3 linked regions of the Homo sapiens genome follow. The protein of the gene in region 2 interacts with the protein of the main gene of each other region in a pairwise test. Each region holds a gene or a part of one and is shown on either strand. Other genes may lie near its edges.

Evidence for each region. The genes of interacting proteins can lie anywhere in the genome.
Region 1: the proteins of C1QTNF5 (region 2) and GUCA1A interact in binary tests that used the Homo sapiens proteins (3 or more experiments, as listed by UniProt).
Region 3: the proteins of C1QTNF5 (region 2) and GUCA1ANB-GUCA1A interact in binary tests that used the Homo sapiens proteins (3 or more experiments, as listed by UniProt).

Annotation. Positions count from the first base shown.
Region 1 is NC_000006.12:42,168,477-42,176,363, reverse strand, and holds the start of GUCA1A (guanylyl cyclase-activating protein 1), read right to left. Parts: upstream 3,001-7,887; 5' UTR 2,751-3,000; coding exon 2,550-2,750; intron 1-2,549. Other genes in the region: GUCA1ANB-GUCA1A (guanylyl cyclase-activating protein 1), read right to left, coding at 2,550-2,750. UniProt on the Homo sapiens protein: Stimulates retinal guanylyl cyclase when free calcium ions concentration is low and inhibits guanylyl cyclase when free calcium ions concentration is elevated.
Region 2 is NC_000011.10:119,338,334-119,345,659, forward strand, and holds C1QTNF5 (complement C1q tumor necrosis factor-related protein 5 precursor), read right to left. Parts: upstream 2,551-7,326; 5' UTR 2,362-2,550; intron 2,108-2,361; 5' UTR 2,065-2,107; coding exon 1,851-2,064; intron 1,516-1,850; coding exon 998-1,515; 3' UTR 609-997; downstream 1-608. Other genes in the region: MFRP (membrane frizzled-related protein), read right to left, coding at 3,215-3,439, 3,524-3,651, 4,263-4,394, 4,540-4,670, 5,483-5,631, 5,982-6,058, 6,299-6,424, 6,541-6,671 and 1 more.
Region 3 is NC_000006.12:42,172,406-42,179,405, reverse strand, and holds part of GUCA1ANB-GUCA1A (guanylyl cyclase-activating protein 1), read right to left. Parts: intron 6,074-7,000; 5' UTR 5,793-6,073; coding exon 5,592-5,792; intron 1,127-5,591; coding exon 977-1,126; intron 605-976; coding exon 511-604; intron 164-510; coding exon 3-163; 3' UTR 1-2. Other genes in the region: GUCA1A (guanylyl cyclase-activating protein 1), read right to left, coding at 3-163, 511-604, 977-1,126, 5,592-5,792. UniProt on the Homo sapiens protein: Stimulates retinal guanylyl cyclase when free calcium ions concentration is low and inhibits guanylyl cyclase when free calcium ions concentration is elevated.

The DNA.
Region 1 (7,887 bases), on a different chromosome or scaffold from region 2:
AACTGCTCCATGCTGATGACAATGGGTCAAGACAGTATTATGCAAAGTGTGATTGTGTGCCATGGGTGTAGATGAGGCAGGTTGGGTGTTACAAAGTCACTCTTCATTTTAATATTTGCAGAGTTAAATTGATGTATATTATAAAATAACTAGCCATTAAATTCCTGATTTCTCATATATTCATTCACTCATACAATGAATATTATTAAGCACCTGCCACAATCCAGGCACTGTTCTAGGAACCAGGGATTCAACAGTGAACAAGACAAAAATCCCTGCCCACATGGAGCTCACATTCCAGCAGGGGGAGACAGGCGATAAACGTAATGGTGAAATGTTATTTAAATCTGGTATTGGAAGACGACAGGTGCTTGCGGGGAAAGGTGGGACTAGGAAATGCAGAGGTGGGAACCAGTCCCAGTTTTAAACAGAGTTTAAACCAGAAGATCACGGCAGGGGTTAGTGAGGAGACTTCTAAGCAGAGACTTGCAGCAGAGGAAGGTGTAAGCCGAGCAGAATTCTGGGGGCAGAGAGGGTCCCAGGCAGCACAAAACCCCTAAGGCGGGGGTGTGTGTGGAATAAGGGAGGAGGCCAGACTGCCTAGAAACAAGGGGTTGATTTACTTTCAGTGGAAAGACAAGGGTCAGGTTTGGTACAGTACAGGTGGTGCTCGCATGGGACACACATTAAGACATGGTTGGCTCAGCGTGGTGGCTCACGCCTGTAATCCCAGCACTATGGGAGGCCGAGGTGGGCGGATCACCTGAGGTCAAGAGTTTGAGACCGGCCTGGCCAACATAGTGAAACCCCATCTCTACTAAAAATACAAAAATTAGCCAGGCATGGTTGTGGGTGCCTGTAATCCCAGCTACTTGAGAGGCTGAGTGAGGCAGAAGAATCGCTTGAGCCCAGGAGGTGGAGGTTGCAGTGAGCCGAGATCACGCCACTGCACTCCAGTCTGGGCGACAGAGCGAGACTCCATCTCAAAAAAAAAAAAAAAAAAAAAAAAAGACATGATTAGGCAAATACAGGGTCGATGTGCCCCAGGGTTGCCCTCCCCCACCCCCACCGGCGTCATATGTGTGACTGTAAGGGTCCTTCTGCAGACATGTCTTAACCCAAAGGGTTTTCTTAGCAGGTGAGAAGATGAGATATGTCGCTGTTTGGGGGTAAGGTGTGAGGCTCAACCATCCATTTGTCCTTCCCCTCCTGTTCAGGAGTTATTCCTTCTTCGGGAGCATTTTGAGTGTTGAATGTGATGATGCCATCCCTCCCAGTCTCTGTACACAGGCTCTGGACTCTGCTCACCTGCTCCCGCTTCGGGAAAGCCCTTGGGCTCCCTCATACTACACCTGAGGTTGACACTCAAAGCCCGTAATCTACTTTGGTCCCTTATCCTTAAATATTAGTGAGTTTTAAATAGCCACTGAGCCCCAGCTTTCCCAAGAAGCCCCACCCATGATGGTGCCTGGACCTTCTGGGCAGCGAGGGAAGGAACCTCTCCCGGGTCTGCAGAGGACACGCGGCAGCGCCTCATTGCATCCTCACTTTTCAAGTGAGGGGCCACAGGGTGGGGAGCCACGTTTGCAGATTTGGGCTCTTCCACAACTATGTCTTGACCAAATAGTTCCAAATGAATGGAAGATTTACTATGAAAACCAACAAACATCTTAACTAATGCTCCCAACATCCACGGCATCATGAATATACTGGGACTGAGAGGGGAAATGATGGGCTCAAGGTCACCCAGCGGATGAAAGCTAGGGACCCAAACCCACAGTCCCAAACTCACCTTTCAGTGACCCCTCTAGCTTATCAATTAGGAAGTCCTTACCTAATGCGTCCAGGTGGCTACTGAGGAGACACAATTTGACCACGGTGTGGACCTTCAGGCTCACTTGAGAAAAGGTGATATGAGGTCACTGGGTATTTTGAAGTTGGGAGCATTCTGGGTTCTCCAGGGACCAGGCAACCCTGTCTGTCTCCAGTCCTCATGTCCGCAGAATATTATAAGTGGCCTGCCCATGCCAGACAGTGAGGCTAGAGAATCATCATCTTGCTCCCTGCTCTCTGCCCCTCTGCCCACATCCTTGGGAGCTTCAAAGGGTGTTTGCAAAAGCACCACGTATAGGACCAGCACATCGCAGGTGTTCAATGACCATCTTGGAAGTGTTTACACTCGTTTTGGAGTAAACCAAGATATGCCTGTGGCAGAGGTGGAGGAAGCCATTGGATTCAGCCTCGGATTACACTAATGTGTGGGCCTCTCTGTCTTGCCCTAGAAAGTGAGGGCAGGGACAATGTCTGATACATTTCTAACCCCCCAGTGCCTGATTCACAGTTGGTGCTCATTAAAGCACAAACATTAGATCCGTTGAAACCCTAGTGTCAAAAACCCACCTATCAAATAAACAAATGACTGTATAAATGAAGTTGCTCCCCAGCGGACACTTCTATGCTCCTCTCTGCTCTTCCTCACCCCCAGCTGGTCAGGCTTCCAGAGGGGTCCCTCCAGCACTTCCCCTCCCTGCCACTGGGCCCCTGCTCACCTTGTTGAAGTCAAAAGTCTCAAACATCTGTTCCACGTACTGGCTGGCCGACGGGCTCAGGTTCTTGAGGCCGAAGAACTGGCGGAACTCATAGAGGGTGAGTTGGCCAGAGGGGCACTCAGTCATGAACTTCTTGTACCACTGGTGGCACTCGGTGCTGCTCAGCTCCTCCACTGACTTTCCCTCCATCACGTTGCCCATTGCTCAGGCCTTCAGGGGGCTGACGTCTGAGATGGACAGGCCCTGTTCGCTGCTCCTCGCCCAAAGGTGTCTTGGCCGACAACGGGGCCGTCCTCTCTCACAGGCCTGAGTCCTTCAGGCCTGAGCAAAGAAGGGCCTGATGGATCAGATGGTACCGGGAAATGTGGAGAGGGAGAGAGCAGAAGGAAGAAGATGATGGCCCACACTCAAACTCACAGATGCCAGAGAACTGGTGTTAAGAGTCTCCACTAAATCCTTGCAGCCCCAGGGGAGACTGTACCCTGGAGAAAAGAGTTGAAAATAGAACAAGGCTTAGAGAAGCAGAGTCCTTAGGATTACAGCCTTGAGCTGTAGGTGAGAGGATTTTTTAACCCAGTTTGCAATCTTCTAATCCCTTCTTACCACCACGGAGTGGGTGTCAGCTAGAAGCTGCTCTGATCCTATGACCTTTGTGACCTTCTTCTCCTGGTTTGAGTGGATTCACAGTGGTTTTGGATTCTGCCTTCAATCATGGAATTGAGGTATATATGAGATAGAGCTGGCTTCTTGTCCAGAGATGGCCAACTGTGGGCTCTTGACAGGGCTGCTGTGTACAGTTATCCAGGCTGTGCACTGCACTTGGCCATCACAACTGAGGGGGTCCAATCATACCATGAGTGTGCTAACATTTGAGGGCACCTGGGTGGATGCAGAGTCTGTGGGCTTCCAAGATAAGCCTTGAACAGCCAGAGAGAACCCCCTCCTACATTAGCCTGCACCAGTACACAGAGACGTGCACACACATACACACACTCGTACACACTCATCCTGTTCTGGCCACACTCTCATGTTCCTGAAGGTTGCATCTCTCCCTTCTTGAGAGCCCTGAATTCATCCTTCCATCTAATTCTGAGCCTCACATCATCACCATCACCTACTAGGGGCACAGGGCAGGGGACATGGAGTGTGCGCCTGGTGCCCTGGGGTATGTGTGAGTGTGAGAGTGCAGGCACACAGGTGCATGGGTGAGCTGCTACCTGCTGGTCCTGGAAAGCTCCCAGGCCAAGCCTGGGGGCCTGTCTATGCAGCAACAGCTTTCTCTGATGCCTGGTGGGATGCGTACTCCCTAGCCACACACTTAAAAGCTGGCTCATTTATGGAACCAGCATTTGGGTGCAGGTGCACTTAACCTGGATGCTGCCAGGAAAGCTTAAAGCCAGCGCTTGCCCTGCCCTGTCTTTTTCTCTTGTTTGCCTTCCTCCTTTACATATGGGGCACACCCAGGTCTCCTAACTCATCTAGAGGGAACCACTGCCCATATTTCTGCTTTCCCCACCAGGGCCTTGGACACTTGGTCAAGTTGTGCACTGATACACAATTTATATGATTTATATAAATAATATATAATTACATGTAAATAGATTTATATAAATATACAATTTATACAACATATAACATATATCAAATACATGTGCATACATATTTCAGAATGGGCTAGGTTATGCTACAGTAACAAACCACTCTAAAATCTCAGTGGCTGAAAACAATACAAGCTTGTTTCTTGCTTACATTACTGGCTGGGTGACCTTGAGCAAGTAACTTAACCTCTCTGGGCCCCAGTTTCCTCATTCTTAAAATAGGAATAATGGCGCCCATCTGATAGGGCTGTTAAGGGGAGTAAGTGGGGCTGGGCACGGTGGCTCACACCTGTAATCCCAACATTTTGGGAGGCCGAGGCGGGTGGATCACTTGAGGCCAGGAGTACGAGACCAGCCTGGCCAACATGGTGAAACCTCATCTCTATTAAAAATACATAAATTAGCCAGGCGTGATGGTGCACACTCCTGTAATCCCAGCTACTCGGGAGGCTGAGGCAGGAGAATCGCTTGAACCCAGGAGGCGGAGGTTGCAGTGAGCCAAGATCGCACCACTGCACTCCAGCCTGAATGACAAAGCGAGACCCTATCTCAAAAAAAAAAAAAAAAAAGAGTATGTGAGTTAATATAAGAAAAGCATTTAGAACAAGGTCTGCCCCAGAGTAAGTGCCCCATAAATCTTGGCTATGATGTTATGATTTTGTATCTATTACAGCAGCATGTCTGATGTGCTGTTCACTACAATCTAGGTGCACTTATACTGCATCTTGGACACAGCAGCATCCCTGGGTTAGAGCCAATCGTGCTCTTGTCCCTTTAGCCCCATTCACTCTGGGCCCTGGACGGCCAGAAGGGCTATGTGTAGGAACAGACATCCAACCTGCCTCACACAGGCCACCTACCAGCTGTAGTCAGGCCCTAGGGAAGGTGGAGGCCTTTGTTAAAGCCTTACCAGATCCAGGCTCACGCCTGTAATCCCGGCACTTTGGGAGGCTGAGGCGGGTGGATCACAAGGTCAGGAGTTCGAGACCAGCCTGGCCAACATGGTAAAACCCCATCTGTACTAAAAATACAAAAATTAGCCAGGCATGGTGGTGGGCGCCTGTAATTCCAGCTACTTGGGAGGCCGAGGCAGGAGAATCACTTCAACCTGGGAGGCGGAGTTTGCAGTGAGCCGAGACTACGCCATTGCACTCCAGCCTGGGCGACAGAGAGAGACTCCATCTCAAAAAAAAAAAAAAAAATTGTTCATAATGAACATATGTTGCTCACAAAATCAAAGAGGATAGTTATTTTTGAAAAAGAGACAAACTGGGACTGTTTTACCTCTACTCCACATGAATTGATTGACGGAAGGTATATGGGGGTGGGGAGCTGGGTTCTCCCTGCTTCAGTCAGCTTCTCCACAACAAGTTAAGGGACGGGGAGAGAAGGACTCCTTCTGTGAACTTGCTTGGGGCCCAGCTGGAAAATGTGTCCTTGCCGAGGACTCTCAGGCCCAAGATTGGGAAATGAAGAGGTTGGGGACAAGGCAGCCGCTCATCTTTCCCTTTCTATTTAAATCCCTCTCACTCTTCATGTGTGAGTACAAATGCCACCTCCTCTGTGAAGCCTTCCCAAATCTCTCTCAAATATCTTCCTCCCACAGCATACTGACATTTTGCTTATGTGTTGTGACAGTTAATTTTAGGACTGGATGAAGGGATTACCCAACAAGCTGGTAAAGCTTTATTTCTGGGTGTTTCTGTGAGGGTGCTTGCCAAAGAGACTGGCATTTGAATTCATGGACTAAGTAAGGAGAATCTGCCTTCAGCCTATGTGGGTGGGCACCATCCAATTGGCTTAGGCCTGGACAGAAGAAAAAGGCAGGGGAAAGGTGAATTCTCTCCCTCTCTCTCTCTCTCTCTGTCCTGGAGCTGGGACACTCTTCTTCTCCTGCCCTTGGACTCCAGGACTTGCACCAGTAGCAACCCCTCCCCACTCTCACGTTCTCAGTCCTTCAGCTTCAGACCCAGAGTTACACCATCAGTTTCCTTGGCTCTGAACCCTTTGGGCTTGAACTGAGCCATGCTACTGGCTTCCCTGGTTCTCCATCTTGCAGATGGCATATTGTGGGACTTCTCAGCCTCCATAAACATGTGAGCCAATCCCCCTAATAAATCTTCTCTCATACCTCTATATATAATCCTATTAGCTCTGTCTCTCTGAAGAACTCTGGCTAATGTGTGTGTTATATTAGTTTTCTATGTTGCATAACAAATAACCACAAAGTCAGCAGTTTTAAAACTACACACATTTATTATTATTATTATTATTATTATTATTATTATTATTATTATTATTTTGAGATGGAGTTTCACTCTTGTTGCCCAGGCTAGAGTACAATGATGCGATCTCGGCTCAGCACAACCTCCTGCCTCCCAGGTTCAAGCAATTCTCCTGCCTCAGCCTCCTGAGTAGCTGGGATTACAGGCATGTGCCGCCATGCCCCACTAATTTTGTATTTTTAGTAGAGACAGGGTTTCTCCATGTTGGTCAGGGTGGTCTCAAACTCCCGACCTCAGGTGATCCACCTGCCTCAGCCTCCCAAAGTGCTGCGATTACAGGCATGAGCCACCGTGCCTGGCCACACATTTATTATCTCACAGTTTCTATGGGCCAGGAGTCCAGGCACAGCTTAGCTGGTCCTCTGCCTAGCGTCTCACAAGGCTGCTCTCAGGGTGTCACCTGGGCTGTATTTTCATCTGGAGGCTCAACTGGGGAAGAATCCACTTCCAACTTATTCAGGTTGTTGGCAGAACTCATTTTGTTGTGGCTATGTGACAAGGGAGCTGGCTTTTCACTTGACATTGCCTGGGGGACACACTCAGGTCATAGAGGCTGCCCTCTGTTCCTTGTTACACCAGCTTCCTCACCACGCTGCTTATTTCATCAAGTCAGCGAGAAGAGTCTCTCTGCAATCTGCTAAAGTCTATATAACCTAACATAATCCACAGAGAGACGTCCCATCACCTTTGCCATATTCTATGGGTTAGAATCAAGTCAAGGGCCTCACCCACACTCAAAGGGAGAGAATTTTACAAAGGTAGGAACAACAGGAGGTAGAAATCACTGGGGTCACCTTAGGGTCTATTATGACATTCACTCTTCTACAATAACACGGACATAGCATTCATTTCTTTCCAGAAGTATTATATAGGCAACTCTTCTTGCCAGCCTGCTCTAAGGAACCCAGCAAGCTCACAGAGGGTGGAGACCATTCTGTTATTTGTGTCTCGCCTGCCCCCAGCTCCTGGCACCACACATTCCACATTGTCGTGCGCTAGTTGTTCTGTTTGCCCAGCCCCGACTCATTCTCCCCCTTTCTCCTCCAGCTCTGAGCCCCAAAGACTGACCCTACAGACTGCATCACCCAGACTCTGCTGCCCTCTTGTTTCAGGCTGGGTTCATCTGCTGAGAAGCTGGAGGAAGACTGGAGGGTGGAGAGGGAGAAGAGCTGGGACATTTGTTGTCCTCACTCCTCCCTGCCAGCTCAGGGTTGGGGCAGCGGTTATTTCCTTCCACCTTCAATCACCGCTCCTGCCATAGCTCTCTGGGCTCCTGTAATCATGGCTCCCTCCCTTTGCCCCGCCAGGCATGATAAGGGCTTCCCTCTCGCTACTGTCTGGGTACATCACCATTCCCTTAACTATGCCCAGCTCTCTGTTAATAGTCCCCACATCAACTCTCCTAAATTACCGTTTTGAGAGTAATATTTGACTGACGGGCTTGAGCCCAGTAAA
Region 2 (7,326 bases):
GAGTAAAGGACCCCCCCTTTTCTTCCATCCGCATCTGGAATTCCTTTGGCCGACCTCAATACCCCTCCTCTCCCTCACCCCCCCATAGTCAGGAGCTCAAGCTACCCAGGATCCCTGCGGCATTCTGGGGCCAGGGCACCCCCTTGTGGTCATCTCAGAAACTGCTTATCTTTAGACGCCCGAGGACGCCACTCACTCGGGTTACAGAGCAATAGCTTTCTGCTCATCGGGGGCAGGCAAGCAGCCGGAGCAGCCATGGACGAAAGTCCTCGGCTCTTTTTTGTTGGATGAGGGCAGAGGTATGTGTGGCGCAGGCAGCCCCTACGTGGTTCAGTTGGCATCTTTGAATTAGAAAAAGGTGCTCCCTTTCTCAAGGATGGATGGAGCCCCACACCAGGAGGGCATCCCGCTGTCAGACACTCCCATTCACAACCTAGGTGGCGGCTCTGTGGAGCAGCCTCTCATTCCCCTGGGCCGGCTTCTTGTATATCTGCCGCATATCTCTATTTCATCCAAGAACCCTCCCTTCTGCCTGAACACCCCCTCCACACCATGATCCCAGAAACAGGGAGCCCCCACCACTAAAGAAGAAAGGCTGGAGCCGGTAGGAGGGTTCTTAGGTTTATTGAGTGATCTCTGAGAAAAGGGCCGGCCCCAGGAGCAGGAGGGGGTGGGGAGGATCCAGAGAAGCAGAGGACCAGGAAGAGAGCACCCCACCGTGGGCTCCTGGACCAGAGCAACTGGGGGACTTACACTTGCCAGCACAGCACACTCCTCTGGTCTTGGGCAGAAATCCAGCCACTGCCCCATGCTGCCAGACCTGATCGCAGACAGCCACTGTTCCCATTCCTTGCCAGCAGCAGGACGGAGAGTGCTCTACCCCACCTCCCTAGTCATTCACAATATTCCAGGGGGGCCAGCCCTCCTGGATGACCTGGTTGTCAGCCTCACACCCTCCTTCTAGGAGTGAGAGCATGAGCTCACTTTGCAGTGGGCACTAAGCAAAGACTGGGGAGCTGTGCCAGTCGGAGTACACCAGAAATCCGGAGAAGGTGCTGTCTGTCTTGATGCTGGCATAGATGCCAATGTAGTCACCCACACCCACCTGCACCCACACTTGGTCCTCAGGCTCCAGCCTCACCATGGCCCCCCCCGAGAGCGAGGCTGGCTTGGGCCACCCCCCGAAAAACTGGAAGAAAGAGGCAATGGATTCGCCATTCTTCACCAGATCAAACTGCAGGCTGGCCCGGTAGACGGTGGCATGGACGGCGAAGTAGTAGACCCCAGGCACCTGGCAGGTGAACTTGCCGGTGACGGCGTCGTAATGTCCCTGCTCGTTCACCAGCACGCGGTCGAAGGGCAAGGGTGCGTCAGACGGCGGAGGCACCCGGCTCTCGGAGCGCTTGGCGCTGAAGGCGGATCGCGGAGGCACCGAGCACTCCCCGGCAGGCCCGGTGGGCCCCGCGGGTCCCGCCTCTCCTCGCGGCCCGGGGTCCCCTCGAGGTCCCGGCAGTCCTGCGGGGTAAGCGGGGCGGCAGGGTGAGAGTAGCGGCGGCTCAGCCCGCAGCGGGGCGGCGACTCTAAGGTCACCGTACCCCTCCCCGCCCCTGCCTGAGCTTCGGCCAGCGCCTCCTCCCGCACGGGTACCTCCTCCACCCCTTCCCGCAGGGCAGATCTGGGGGGCTGGCCAAGGGGGCTCCCGCCGCCTGGGCCCCTCCCCCGCTCAGGGCTGCAAAGCGCGGGGAGTGGCGCCCCCTGGCGGGAGACCCGAGTCCCGGACACCGGGAGCTGGAGCTGCGGCCGCGCCTGCTCGGACATCGCCACCGATAGCCGCGGCGGTGCCTTCTTACCCGGCCTCCCGCCCTCGCCTTTCTCTCCCGGAGCCCCGGGCGCGCCGTCGCGGCCGTCGCGGCCATCGCGGCCCGGCAAGCCCTGGCTGCCATGGTGGCCCGGCGTGCCTGGAAGGCCGGGGTGCCCCGGGCAGAGGCTGGGGATCTTGTTGTCGTCCAGTGGGGGCGAGCCGGCCGCCAGGCCCAGGAGCAGCAGGACGAGGAGTGGCCTCATAGCGCTGGCACCGGGAGCCCGGACGCCGGGGTCCTCTCGCAGTCTGTGGACCAGGCAGGACTGGAGTCGGGACCCAGAATCCTGGGACCTGCCTCTCTCCCCACCCCGGCGCGGCCCAGTCGGTCCCCACCCCACTGCCGTGCCCCTGAGGCTGAGCGCTCGCAGGGCCGAGCATCCGGAGAGCACAGGCAGGCGCGAGAGGGTGGGAGCGGCCAGCCCTCCCTCCCACCGCCGGCCCGCGCCAGCCTTTCCCACAGTCCCCTCCCCAGCCCCTTTCCCCTCCTCCGCCAGACTCACCCCCCCTCCCGGCTCCCCGATGGCCTCCTTCGGGGCGCTCGCTACTCCGGACCCTCCAGTTGGTGGTGCTCCAGCCCCCGCGCTTCTCCCCGGCCAGGCGCCCCCTGCCCTGCCGTCACCCCAGTCCTGGTTCGCTCCCTGCCGGCTCCGCTTTCCTCCTCCCAGACTCCAAGAGGAAACCAGTTGTTCAGGGGCCAAGAGCTCCCGGACCGGGAAATAGCTGGGAAATAACTCGTGGTGTCGCCCGGCGGCCGGCCAAAGTTTAGGGGGAGAAAGGAGGGGGAGAGAGACTTGAGCTGGGCACAGAGAGGCAGAACTTCGAGAGACGGACACACAGGGCACCTCCTGTTCCCAGGGCCAGAGGAGAGGCAGGGCAGTGGCAGAGACCAAGGACCAGACCCCATTTCAGGGAGAAATACGCAGAGAGATGAGGGTGGAGAGTTCTAGAGGCAGACAGCCAGTTGGATCCCTAGGGCCTAGGACAGGGGCCTGCCACATGAATAGATGCTCAGTACATTTTTGTTGAATCAAGGAAAAGGTCAGAAGGCAGGCGATGGAGAAGCTGAAAAAGCAGATGGAAAGGGGAAGAGGCCTGGATGGGAAGTGGTCTCGATTGTCCGGTGGCACAGTGTGGGGCCAGTCAGCAGCCTGGGACCGGTAAAGGGACAGGAAGGAGCAGGGAGGGTGGTAGGGTCCCATGAGCCCCAGCTGAGGACTTCTCTTCCCCCTCCCTGGGAGCCCCAGAGAAGGATGGGTAGAGACCCTGCTGATGCTCCTTCCTTTGTTCCCCTGCGTGCCAGCCCTGACCGGCAAAAGAGGACGGGCAGGAAGAGGGCAGGGGCCGGCTTCAGGGTCAGGGCTGGGCACAAGCTTCCAGGTCAGCTGCCTCTGGCAGCCTGTTGCAGTTGAAGGGCCAGGGGGTGCCCAGTAGTGCCAGGCCAGACTGGCACTGGTGCTCCGCTTCCTGGCAGACAGAGCGGCAAGGGGGCAGAACACTGCCTAGTGGGGTGCAACGGGGCACAAGCAGCCCACACAGGAGCCTCCGGAAATGCTGGTAGCAGGGCAGGCTTGTCAGGCTCTGCGGAGGGAGAGTGGCCTTCAGGCACCTGCTCCCAGGCTCCTCCCCTCCCAGGCCCGCCCTCCTTCCCTCCACCCAGAAGACCTTGTAACCGCTGAGGACCTCTACCACCTCCTCCTGGGTGATCATGCCCACCCAGATGTTAGGGAAGGCTGTGGTGTTGTAGCTCAGACCGAGGCACATCTCCACCTGGACAGGCTCACAGGCCAGCTCTGCAGGGGTGGAGGGGAGGGCCACTGTGGGGACTGCTCACTGGCTCTGTGGCCTGTGGCAAGTCACCGAATCGCTCGGTCCTGTGTGTACATGGGTCCAATGGGGGTGGTTGTGAGGAAGCAAGAGGATAACAAAGAGACAGGCTGTACACACTCTGAGGATCCCTGCCATCCCTGAGAGCCTGCTCCAGCATCGCTTGCCAGCCCTGGGCATCATGCAGGCACGTCTTTAATCTCAGGGAACATGGGGCACCCGCGTTTGCAGGGACTGCTTGGGCATCTGGAAGAAACCCCCTGCTCTGTGTAAGAGGATGCCTTCATCTTTGGTGTGGGCTGTGGAAAGGGGCTCTGGGTGACAGAAGGGACTGGTTCTTGAAGCCCCACCAATGATTCCCAGATTCCCATTTCCCTTGGGGTGACACTCAGTACTATTGCCACCACCAGCCGACTGTCTTCCAGGACTCTGTGAAGTGGTCCCAGAGTCAGGATGGTGAGGCCAGCTGGCCCCGCCCCCTCAGGGAGGTTGGGATGGGACACTGTGCAGTACGGCAGTAGGGTTCTGTGAGGTGGGCACCCAGCCTGCTCAGGGTCCCCAGGGGCAGGCTTCTCACCTGGGGGTGGGAACAAGGGGCCGCTGCAGTTGTCATCGCTGCCATCGGTGCAGTCTCTCCACATGTCACACATCCACTGCACACCCTTACACCCTCCTGCCTGGCAGGAGAGCTCACTGGGCCCACAGGGGTCTGCAGGCACAAGGGGCATGGCAGTGCCCGGGGACATACCTACACCCCCAGTACCCCCAGAGTGTCCTGACCAGGGTCCAGAGCCCTTGTCTGTCCCCCTGGAGGTGCCTCTACTGCCCCCACCCACTTGCCCAGGGGCACCTACTCTCCGTGGCATTGAAGGCCAGGTAGGTGGCTGAGAAGCCTCCACTGCTGATGCCATGATCTGTCCTAAACAGCACAGCCAGCTCATGGTGCGAGGAGACGAGGTGGGGGGGTGGCTCTGCTCCACAGAACCTGCCCAAAGCAGACAGCTGTTCTGGGCACCAGCCCTGGCTGACTGAGGGGGCACTGCAGCCTCCCACAGGCCTGGCTCTGAGCTGGGAGCCCTGGATGATGCCAAAGGTGATGGAAGACACAGGGTTAGGGTCTGGCGAGAAAGACACATATATTCAACAGGGAAAGCATTAAACAAACTGTCTGAACTCGAGCCACTTCTAGATGGGGAAAAATCAGCGAAGCAGCCTGGCATTGTGGCTCACACCTGTAATCCCAGCATTTTGGGAGGCTGAGTAGGGAGGATCACTTGAGCCCAGGAGTTTGAAACCAGCCTGGGCGATATAGTGAGACCTTGTCTTTACAAAAAAATTAAAAAAGTAAATTATCTGGGCGTGGTGGCATGTGCCTGTGATCCCAGCTACTTAGGAGGCTGAGGTGGAAGGAGCACTTGAAGCTGGGAGGTTGAGGCAGCAGTGAGCCATGATGGTGCTACTGCACTCCCGCCTGGGCAACAAAGTGACACTCTGCCTCAAAAAAAGAAGAAAAAGAAAAATCAATGAGGGTTTGTAGGGGAGGTGGAAGTGGCCCCTGCCGGTGGGGAGGAACTGGGGCAGGGAGAGGTTTGGGGAAGGACCTCCTGGGGACAGGGAGAGTGTGGGGTGAAGGTTTTGAGGTGAGAGCTGTCTTTAGGGTGATGGTGAAGAGACCCCCGGCCTGGAGTAGCAGAAGAAAATGAAGCTGGAGAATGGAATGTGCTGGGCCGACATGGAAGCCGGGGGTGGCAGACAGTGAGGATGGAGTTATCCATGGCTCTTCCCTGGCTCCTGTACCTGCCCAGGAGGCTGAAGGCCCCTGAGCTGCTGGTCTCATACACCTCCACGTAGTCAAACTTGCACTCGTCCTGAGCCTCCAGGCTGAAGTTGTGGAACTGTAGTTCTATGCTGTGTCCGGCAGGCACCGAGATATGCCAGGTGCAGAGCTGGGGGAGGGCATAGGTGGAGCAATTCATGGCCCCTTCTCCTGTCTCATCCCGGGCACCCAGAAGGGTCTTCTTCCCCCACTGCTGGCTGGGGGGATGGGGTGGTGCTTTCATCATTGGTGGTTCTTAAGGACCTTTAATTTACCTGGTTTCAGAGGTGAGTTGACCCAGTGTGGGAACATCTGGGTACACAGCAGGCACTTAATAATATTCCCCCATCCCCCGTCTGCTTGATCTCTGACCTTCCCAAGTAGAAGGTAGTGTCTACCATGCCATTCCCATTACACTAACTTGGGGATCAGGTGCTTCCGTGTGTGCCCCTCCCGTTCTGCATGGAGCACTGTGCTTACCAGTTGGTGAGGGTACTGCTGCAGGTAGCTGGGAGTAGAGAAAGTGCCCTGGAGGCCAGTCAGATTCCCCCCACACCCTGTAGAGAGGTGGAAGGGCTCATGAGTTTGCTAGGATCTGTGCCTCCATCCAATAGGGCTGGCGGTGATTACAGAGCGAGAGTTTTGGCCATGCCCATGGGAAACAAGTTCTGGGCCAAAGAATGACTGAGCAGGAAATGCTGACGGAGGGCCCGGTTTGAGGCTGGACCAGAGCTGGGGAGCCCAGCTTGAACCCAGATCAGACGCCTGAAGAGAGGACCCCCATGCCTGGCCCGTACCCGAGAACTTGGCACTGCAATTGGTCTCATCACTGCCGTCAGCACAGTTGGCAAAACCATCACACACTGAGTCAGGTAGCAGGCAGATGAGCTGGTCACAGCGGAACTCATCATGGGCACAGCTCCCTGGATGTGGGCACCAGGAGTCAGGGAGGCCCGGAGTCTCCACCCCTTTGACAGGACTGGGAGTGGGTGGAGGGGAAGAAAGTGGACACTCAACAGGCAGGTGGGAACACACTCACCGCGCCCAGGGGCCATAGCCTGGTACCAGGCATGGAAACCAAATCCTTCCACACTGCTGTCAGAGACGAAGACCACCAGGAGGTGGCTGGCATTGGTGTTGAGCGTGGGGGGAGGCACCCTTCCACAAACCCTGCAAGAAGCCAGGTTGGGGGTGAGGGAGGCTCCAAGAGCAGGGTCAGCCAGAGAGGAGCTTGCCTGGGCCTTGCAGTCCTATTTTCTCAACCCCCAAACTGGTGACCATGTGGTCAAAAAGGCTCCTCTGATGTCCCAGGGAGCTCTGACCTTCCTAGCACCTGCACATTTATCCTTGTAGCATCTACTCATGGGGAGATAGGCAGGAGATCCATGTTACAGACTAGGAAACAGGTGAGAGAGGGGAAGTGATCTTCCTCACGGCACACAGCAAGGTGGTGGCAGAGCTGGGCCCAGAGGTCTAGTCTCTCAATTTCTTCCTCGGTTAGCCCTTCTCCCTGCCACTCCCTGATTCTGCTCTTTAGATAGTGGTTCAGGACACGGTGGGATGTCCTGGGGACAGAGGGACCTACCTGAGGAGGGGGCCTTCAGGCTCAGGGGAGAGTTCCAAGCGATCAAAAAGGCAAGAGGCCACACTCTCTATGCTGAGGGCTTCGATCTTGAGCTGTATTGCATGGTCTGTGGCCACCTGGATATGCCACACGCAGTGGGTGTTGGGGGGGTAAGGGTCTGGGTAGTTAGGGCTGCTGAAGAAGCCCCTTGGGCCAGAGAGGAGGCCTCCACAGGCTGCAGAGATGGAGGTTAGAGTTCAG
Region 3 (7,000 bases), on a different chromosome or scaffold from region 2:
ACTCAGCCGGCTGCCTCAGCGGCCTCGTCAGCCCCCTCCTCGTCTTGCTCGCCATTCTGGAGCCTGCGCACGATGCGGGTAAGGTCCAGGCTTCGTGTCAGTGTGTCCAGGAGCATCTGGTCCTTCTGGACGCCCTCTATAAACTCTTCCAGGGAGAGTTCCCCTGGGGTAGAGAGAAAGGGAATCAGGGGGAGGAGGGTGTTCATTTCTGCAGTCCAGAGCACAGAACCGGGTTCTTGCCAGGGGCAGGGACAGAGCCCACGTGAGGAGAAGTCAGAGCCCCTGCTGCGGGTGCAGCAAGCAGAGGAACCCAGAGCCCAGATTCTGGTCCAGGGGCCCCTAAAAGCCAACTTTGTGGCTGGGGCAGAGGCAGGTGGAGGAAGTGACCAGCACGGGGGCCTTTGGGCCTCTCCTCCCTTCCTCACCCTCTCCTTTAGTGACCTTCCACCCCTGGTGACCCCACATCCATGGTGACCCCTCCGCTGGGGAGCCCCTCCTCGGCCCCCTCACCATCCCCGTTGACGTCAATCTTGGAGAACACTGTATCGGTGAACTCCTCTGCAGTCATGGTGGTATCGCTGCAGGGGTTAATGGCGCGAATGGCCTGGGAGGGAAGAAGGGGCAGAAGTGAGAGGGGCCCATCCTTATCCTATCTCAGGGGTAGGATTGGGGACGGTCAGAGCTTGTCCGGCTCCCAAGAGCAGTGAGGAGTAGAGTGCAGGGTACCCGGGGGCCTAGGCAGAGCTGGGACTCAAGAGTCAAACTTCTATCGTCTTTTGGTATTGATGAGGAAACTGAGGCCAAGGAAGGGAAGGAACGTGGCCTGGGTCACGCAGCTGGTGAGGCCTACAGCTGCCACCAGGATCCTCAGTCCCACATCCTGTCTCAATCCTGAGATTGTTGTTCTAACCCTGGGCTCTCAGTTCCGGGTCCCACCCCAGACCGCTGCCCCCAGCCCTGGCCGGGCCCTCTGCACCTGGATGATGGTGAGCAGCTCATCGCGGTCAATGCAGCCGTTGCCATCTACATCATAGAGCTTGAAGTACCAGCGGAGCTTCTGTTCCACCTTCCCCTTGAGGACCAAGCTGAGCGCTGCCACGTACTCCATGAAATCAATGTAGCCGTCCTGGGCGAGGGGCGCGGCCGCCGTGAGCCCATCCGGGCCCCGCTCACTCCAGCCTCAGGCCCCGCCCATCATAACCCAAGGCTCCGCCCATCTCGGCAAGCCCCAAGAGACGCTGAGGGGAGACCCGGACCCTCGGAGATGCAGCGAGGGGGCCAGCCCTGTCTCCGCCGTGACCTATCTGTCTTCCTAGACGCCCTGTATAGCCCACCCTGCCTACTCCAGAGGCTGCCAATCAAATCTAATAAGCCAGCATCCACTGGGGTGTGAATGGCTGGCGCTGTCTGTTCACAGGCATCTGGGTTTTAGCGAGCGCTGCCTGCTTCCCTGTGATTGTCAAGCATGAGCCTTTCCAGTTAGGGGAAATGGGAGACATGTGCGTAGGTGGGAGGAGGAAGAACTGCACCCCCAGGGATGGGAGCGTGGTTTGGGTGAGCTTTTGGGAGTTTCTCACCCTGCTGCCTGAGGGGCTGAGGCCCCCGGAAGGCCTTAAACACTCTGAACCCCACAGTGGGCTCATTCAGTCCCAACCCACCTCCCAGGACTGTCATCAGCACAGAGCCCAGAGAGGCCCCTAGACAGCACAGCTTGAATAAGCAAGAAAACTGCTAAAGAGGTTTCCTCTGGGGGAGGGGACACCAGGTGAGGATACTTTTGCTCTTCATTTTTTATCTTTCTGTATTGCTGGAAATTTCTACAATGAGCTGGATTGCTTTTGCAGGTTTTTTTTTTAATGTCTAAAAAGGGGCAATGGAAAAGGTGTGGATTTTTGTGCCAGAAAGATCTAAATCACCTTGGATAAGTCACATGACCTTGAGTCTCCGTATTCCCAGGTATAAAATGGAATGACAGTGTGCACTTTTCAAGATTGTGGTATGCATTAGATTCAATGAAAATATATAGCAATACTAACTTTTCTTAGTGCTCTCCATGGACTTCCTAGGCTGAGTGCTTTATTCATTTTACTCATTTAATCTCAAGCCACCCCCAAGAGGTGAATATTTTTGTCTCTAGTTTGAATGACAAAGCCAAAGTTGAGAGAGATTAGGCCAAACAGCTAGTGAATGACAAAGCCTCTCCTAAATCATCCTATATCAGTACTCAAATGCAGATGGAGATTTGCATTGATTTGTGTGCACCTGTGTGATTGTCAGACAAACCCAAGCCCAGACAAACATTTGAAGTAAGCAAAGCAAATGGCCTGTCCCCCAGGTTTCACTCCCCAGTCACACTCTGTACTCCCCAGCCCTGCACATCTGGTGCAATACCCAAAGATACAACCATTTTTTAGTGCAAGGGCTGGCACTTGCACTAAAAACTTTTTAGTTTTTATTAGAAAATGGCAAACTTTTTCTGTAAAGAGCCAAAGAGTAAATATGCAGCTTTGCAGCCAAACACCCTCTGTCATTTTACGTGAAAGCAGCCATAGACAATTCTCTACGTAAATAAATAGATGTGGTGAGTTCTAATAAAACTTCATTTACAAAAACAGGCCTGTGTGCTGTCATTTGCCTGTCCCTGTTTAACTCCTCTCTGTATCAAAACTTCTGGACAGGTGCAGTGGCTCACACCTGTAATCCCAGCACTTTGGGAGGCCGAGGCAGGTGGATCACCTGAGGTCAGGAGTTCGAGACCAGCCTGGCCAATGTGGTGAAAACCTGTCTCTACTAAAAATACAAAAATTAGCCAGGCGTGGTGGTGGGCACCTGTAATCCCAGCTACTCAGGAGGCTGAGGCAGAAGAATCACTTGAACCCAGGAGGTGGAGGTTGCAGTGAGCCGAGATCGTGCCATTGCACTCCAGCCTGGGTGACAAGAGCAAAACTCCATCTCAAAAAACAACAACAACAACAAAAAACAAAACAACAACAACAACAAAAACTTCCCAATCCTGTGTTCCATCTCCTAGCCAATCTGCTAAACTGCTCCATGCTGATGACAATGGGTCAAGACAGTATTATGCAAAGTGTGATTGTGTGCCATGGGTGTAGATGAGGCAGGTTGGGTGTTACAAAGTCACTCTTCATTTTAATATTTGCAGAGTTAAATTGATGTATATTATAAAATAACTAGCCATTAAATTCCTGATTTCTCATATATTCATTCACTCATACAATGAATATTATTAAGCACCTGCCACAATCCAGGCACTGTTCTAGGAACCAGGGATTCAACAGTGAACAAGACAAAAATCCCTGCCCACATGGAGCTCACATTCCAGCAGGGGGAGACAGGCGATAAACGTAATGGTGAAATGTTATTTAAATCTGGTATTGGAAGACGACAGGTGCTTGCGGGGAAAGGTGGGACTAGGAAATGCAGAGGTGGGAACCAGTCCCAGTTTTAAACAGAGTTTAAACCAGAAGATCACGGCAGGGGTTAGTGAGGAGACTTCTAAGCAGAGACTTGCAGCAGAGGAAGGTGTAAGCCGAGCAGAATTCTGGGGGCAGAGAGGGTCCCAGGCAGCACAAAACCCCTAAGGCGGGGGTGTGTGTGGAATAAGGGAGGAGGCCAGACTGCCTAGAAACAAGGGGTTGATTTACTTTCAGTGGAAAGACAAGGGTCAGGTTTGGTACAGTACAGGTGGTGCTCGCATGGGACACACATTAAGACATGGTTGGCTCAGCGTGGTGGCTCACGCCTGTAATCCCAGCACTATGGGAGGCCGAGGTGGGCGGATCACCTGAGGTCAAGAGTTTGAGACCGGCCTGGCCAACATAGTGAAACCCCATCTCTACTAAAAATACAAAAATTAGCCAGGCATGGTTGTGGGTGCCTGTAATCCCAGCTACTTGAGAGGCTGAGTGAGGCAGAAGAATCGCTTGAGCCCAGGAGGTGGAGGTTGCAGTGAGCCGAGATCACGCCACTGCACTCCAGTCTGGGCGACAGAGCGAGACTCCATCTCAAAAAAAAAAAAAAAAAAAAAAAAAGACATGATTAGGCAAATACAGGGTCGATGTGCCCCAGGGTTGCCCTCCCCCACCCCCACCGGCGTCATATGTGTGACTGTAAGGGTCCTTCTGCAGACATGTCTTAACCCAAAGGGTTTTCTTAGCAGGTGAGAAGATGAGATATGTCGCTGTTTGGGGGTAAGGTGTGAGGCTCAACCATCCATTTGTCCTTCCCCTCCTGTTCAGGAGTTATTCCTTCTTCGGGAGCATTTTGAGTGTTGAATGTGATGATGCCATCCCTCCCAGTCTCTGTACACAGGCTCTGGACTCTGCTCACCTGCTCCCGCTTCGGGAAAGCCCTTGGGCTCCCTCATACTACACCTGAGGTTGACACTCAAAGCCCGTAATCTACTTTGGTCCCTTATCCTTAAATATTAGTGAGTTTTAAATAGCCACTGAGCCCCAGCTTTCCCAAGAAGCCCCACCCATGATGGTGCCTGGACCTTCTGGGCAGCGAGGGAAGGAACCTCTCCCGGGTCTGCAGAGGACACGCGGCAGCGCCTCATTGCATCCTCACTTTTCAAGTGAGGGGCCACAGGGTGGGGAGCCACGTTTGCAGATTTGGGCTCTTCCACAACTATGTCTTGACCAAATAGTTCCAAATGAATGGAAGATTTACTATGAAAACCAACAAACATCTTAACTAATGCTCCCAACATCCACGGCATCATGAATATACTGGGACTGAGAGGGGAAATGATGGGCTCAAGGTCACCCAGCGGATGAAAGCTAGGGACCCAAACCCACAGTCCCAAACTCACCTTTCAGTGACCCCTCTAGCTTATCAATTAGGAAGTCCTTACCTAATGCGTCCAGGTGGCTACTGAGGAGACACAATTTGACCACGGTGTGGACCTTCAGGCTCACTTGAGAAAAGGTGATATGAGGTCACTGGGTATTTTGAAGTTGGGAGCATTCTGGGTTCTCCAGGGACCAGGCAACCCTGTCTGTCTCCAGTCCTCATGTCCGCAGAATATTATAAGTGGCCTGCCCATGCCAGACAGTGAGGCTAGAGAATCATCATCTTGCTCCCTGCTCTCTGCCCCTCTGCCCACATCCTTGGGAGCTTCAAAGGGTGTTTGCAAAAGCACCACGTATAGGACCAGCACATCGCAGGTGTTCAATGACCATCTTGGAAGTGTTTACACTCGTTTTGGAGTAAACCAAGATATGCCTGTGGCAGAGGTGGAGGAAGCCATTGGATTCAGCCTCGGATTACACTAATGTGTGGGCCTCTCTGTCTTGCCCTAGAAAGTGAGGGCAGGGACAATGTCTGATACATTTCTAACCCCCCAGTGCCTGATTCACAGTTGGTGCTCATTAAAGCACAAACATTAGATCCGTTGAAACCCTAGTGTCAAAAACCCACCTATCAAATAAACAAATGACTGTATAAATGAAGTTGCTCCCCAGCGGACACTTCTATGCTCCTCTCTGCTCTTCCTCACCCCCAGCTGGTCAGGCTTCCAGAGGGGTCCCTCCAGCACTTCCCCTCCCTGCCACTGGGCCCCTGCTCACCTTGTTGAAGTCAAAAGTCTCAAACATCTGTTCCACGTACTGGCTGGCCGACGGGCTCAGGTTCTTGAGGCCGAAGAACTGGCGGAACTCATAGAGGGTGAGTTGGCCAGAGGGGCACTCAGTCATGAACTTCTTGTACCACTGGTGGCACTCGGTGCTGCTCAGCTCCTCCACTGACTTTCCCTCCATCACGTTGCCCATTGCTCAGGCCTTCAGGGGGCTGACGTCTGAGATGGACAGGCCCTGTTCGCTGCTCCTCGCCCAAAGGTGTCTTGGCCGACAACGGGGCCGTCCTCTCTCACAGGCCTGAGTCCTTCAGGCCTGAGCAAAGAAGGGCCTGATGGATCAGATGGTACCGGGAAATGTGGAGAGGGAGAGAGCAGAAGGAAGAAGATGATGGCCCACACTCAAACTCACAGATGCCAGAGAACTGGTGTTAAGAGTCTCCACTAAATCCTTGCAGCCCCAGGGGAGACTGTACCCTGGAGAAAAGAGTTGAAAATAGAACAAGGCTTAGAGAAGCAGAGTCCTTAGGATTACAGCCTTGAGCTGTAGGTGAGAGGATTTTTTAACCCAGTTTGCAATCTTCTAATCCCTTCTTACCACCACGGAGTGGGTGTCAGCTAGAAGCTGCTCTGATCCTATGACCTTTGTGACCTTCTTCTCCTGGTTTGAGTGGATTCACAGTGGTTTTGGATTCTGCCTTCAATCATGGAATTGAGGTATATATGAGATAGAGCTGGCTTCTTGTCCAGAGATGGCCAACTGTGGGCTCTTGACAGGGCTGCTGTGTACAGTTATCCAGGCTGTGCACTGCACTTGGCCATCACAACTGAGGGGGTCCAATCATACCATGAGTGTGCTAACATTTGAGGGCACCTGGGTGGATGCAGAGTCTGTGGGCTTCCAAGATAAGCCTTGAACAGCCAGAGAGAACCCCCTCCTACATTAGCCTGCACCAGTACACAGAGACGTGCACACACATACACACACTCGTACACACTCATCCTGTTCTGGCCACACTCTCATGTTCCTGAAGGTTGCATCTCTCCCTTCTTGAGAGCCCTGAATTCATCCTTCCATCTAATTCTGAGCCTCACATCATCACCATCACCTACTAGGGGCACAGGGCAGGGGACATGGAGTGTGCGCCTGGTGCCCTGGGGTATGTGTGAGTGTGAGAGTGCAGGCACACAGGTGCATGGGTGAGCTGCTACCTGCTGGTCCTGGAAAGCTCCCAGGCCAAGCCTGGGGGCCTGTCTATGCAGCAACAGCTTTCTCTGATGCCTGGTGGGATGCGTACTCCCTAGCCACACACTTAAAAGCTGGCTCATTTATGGAACCAGCATTTGGGTGCAGGTGCACTTAACCTGGATGCTGCCAGGAAAGCTTAAAGCCAGCGCTTGCCC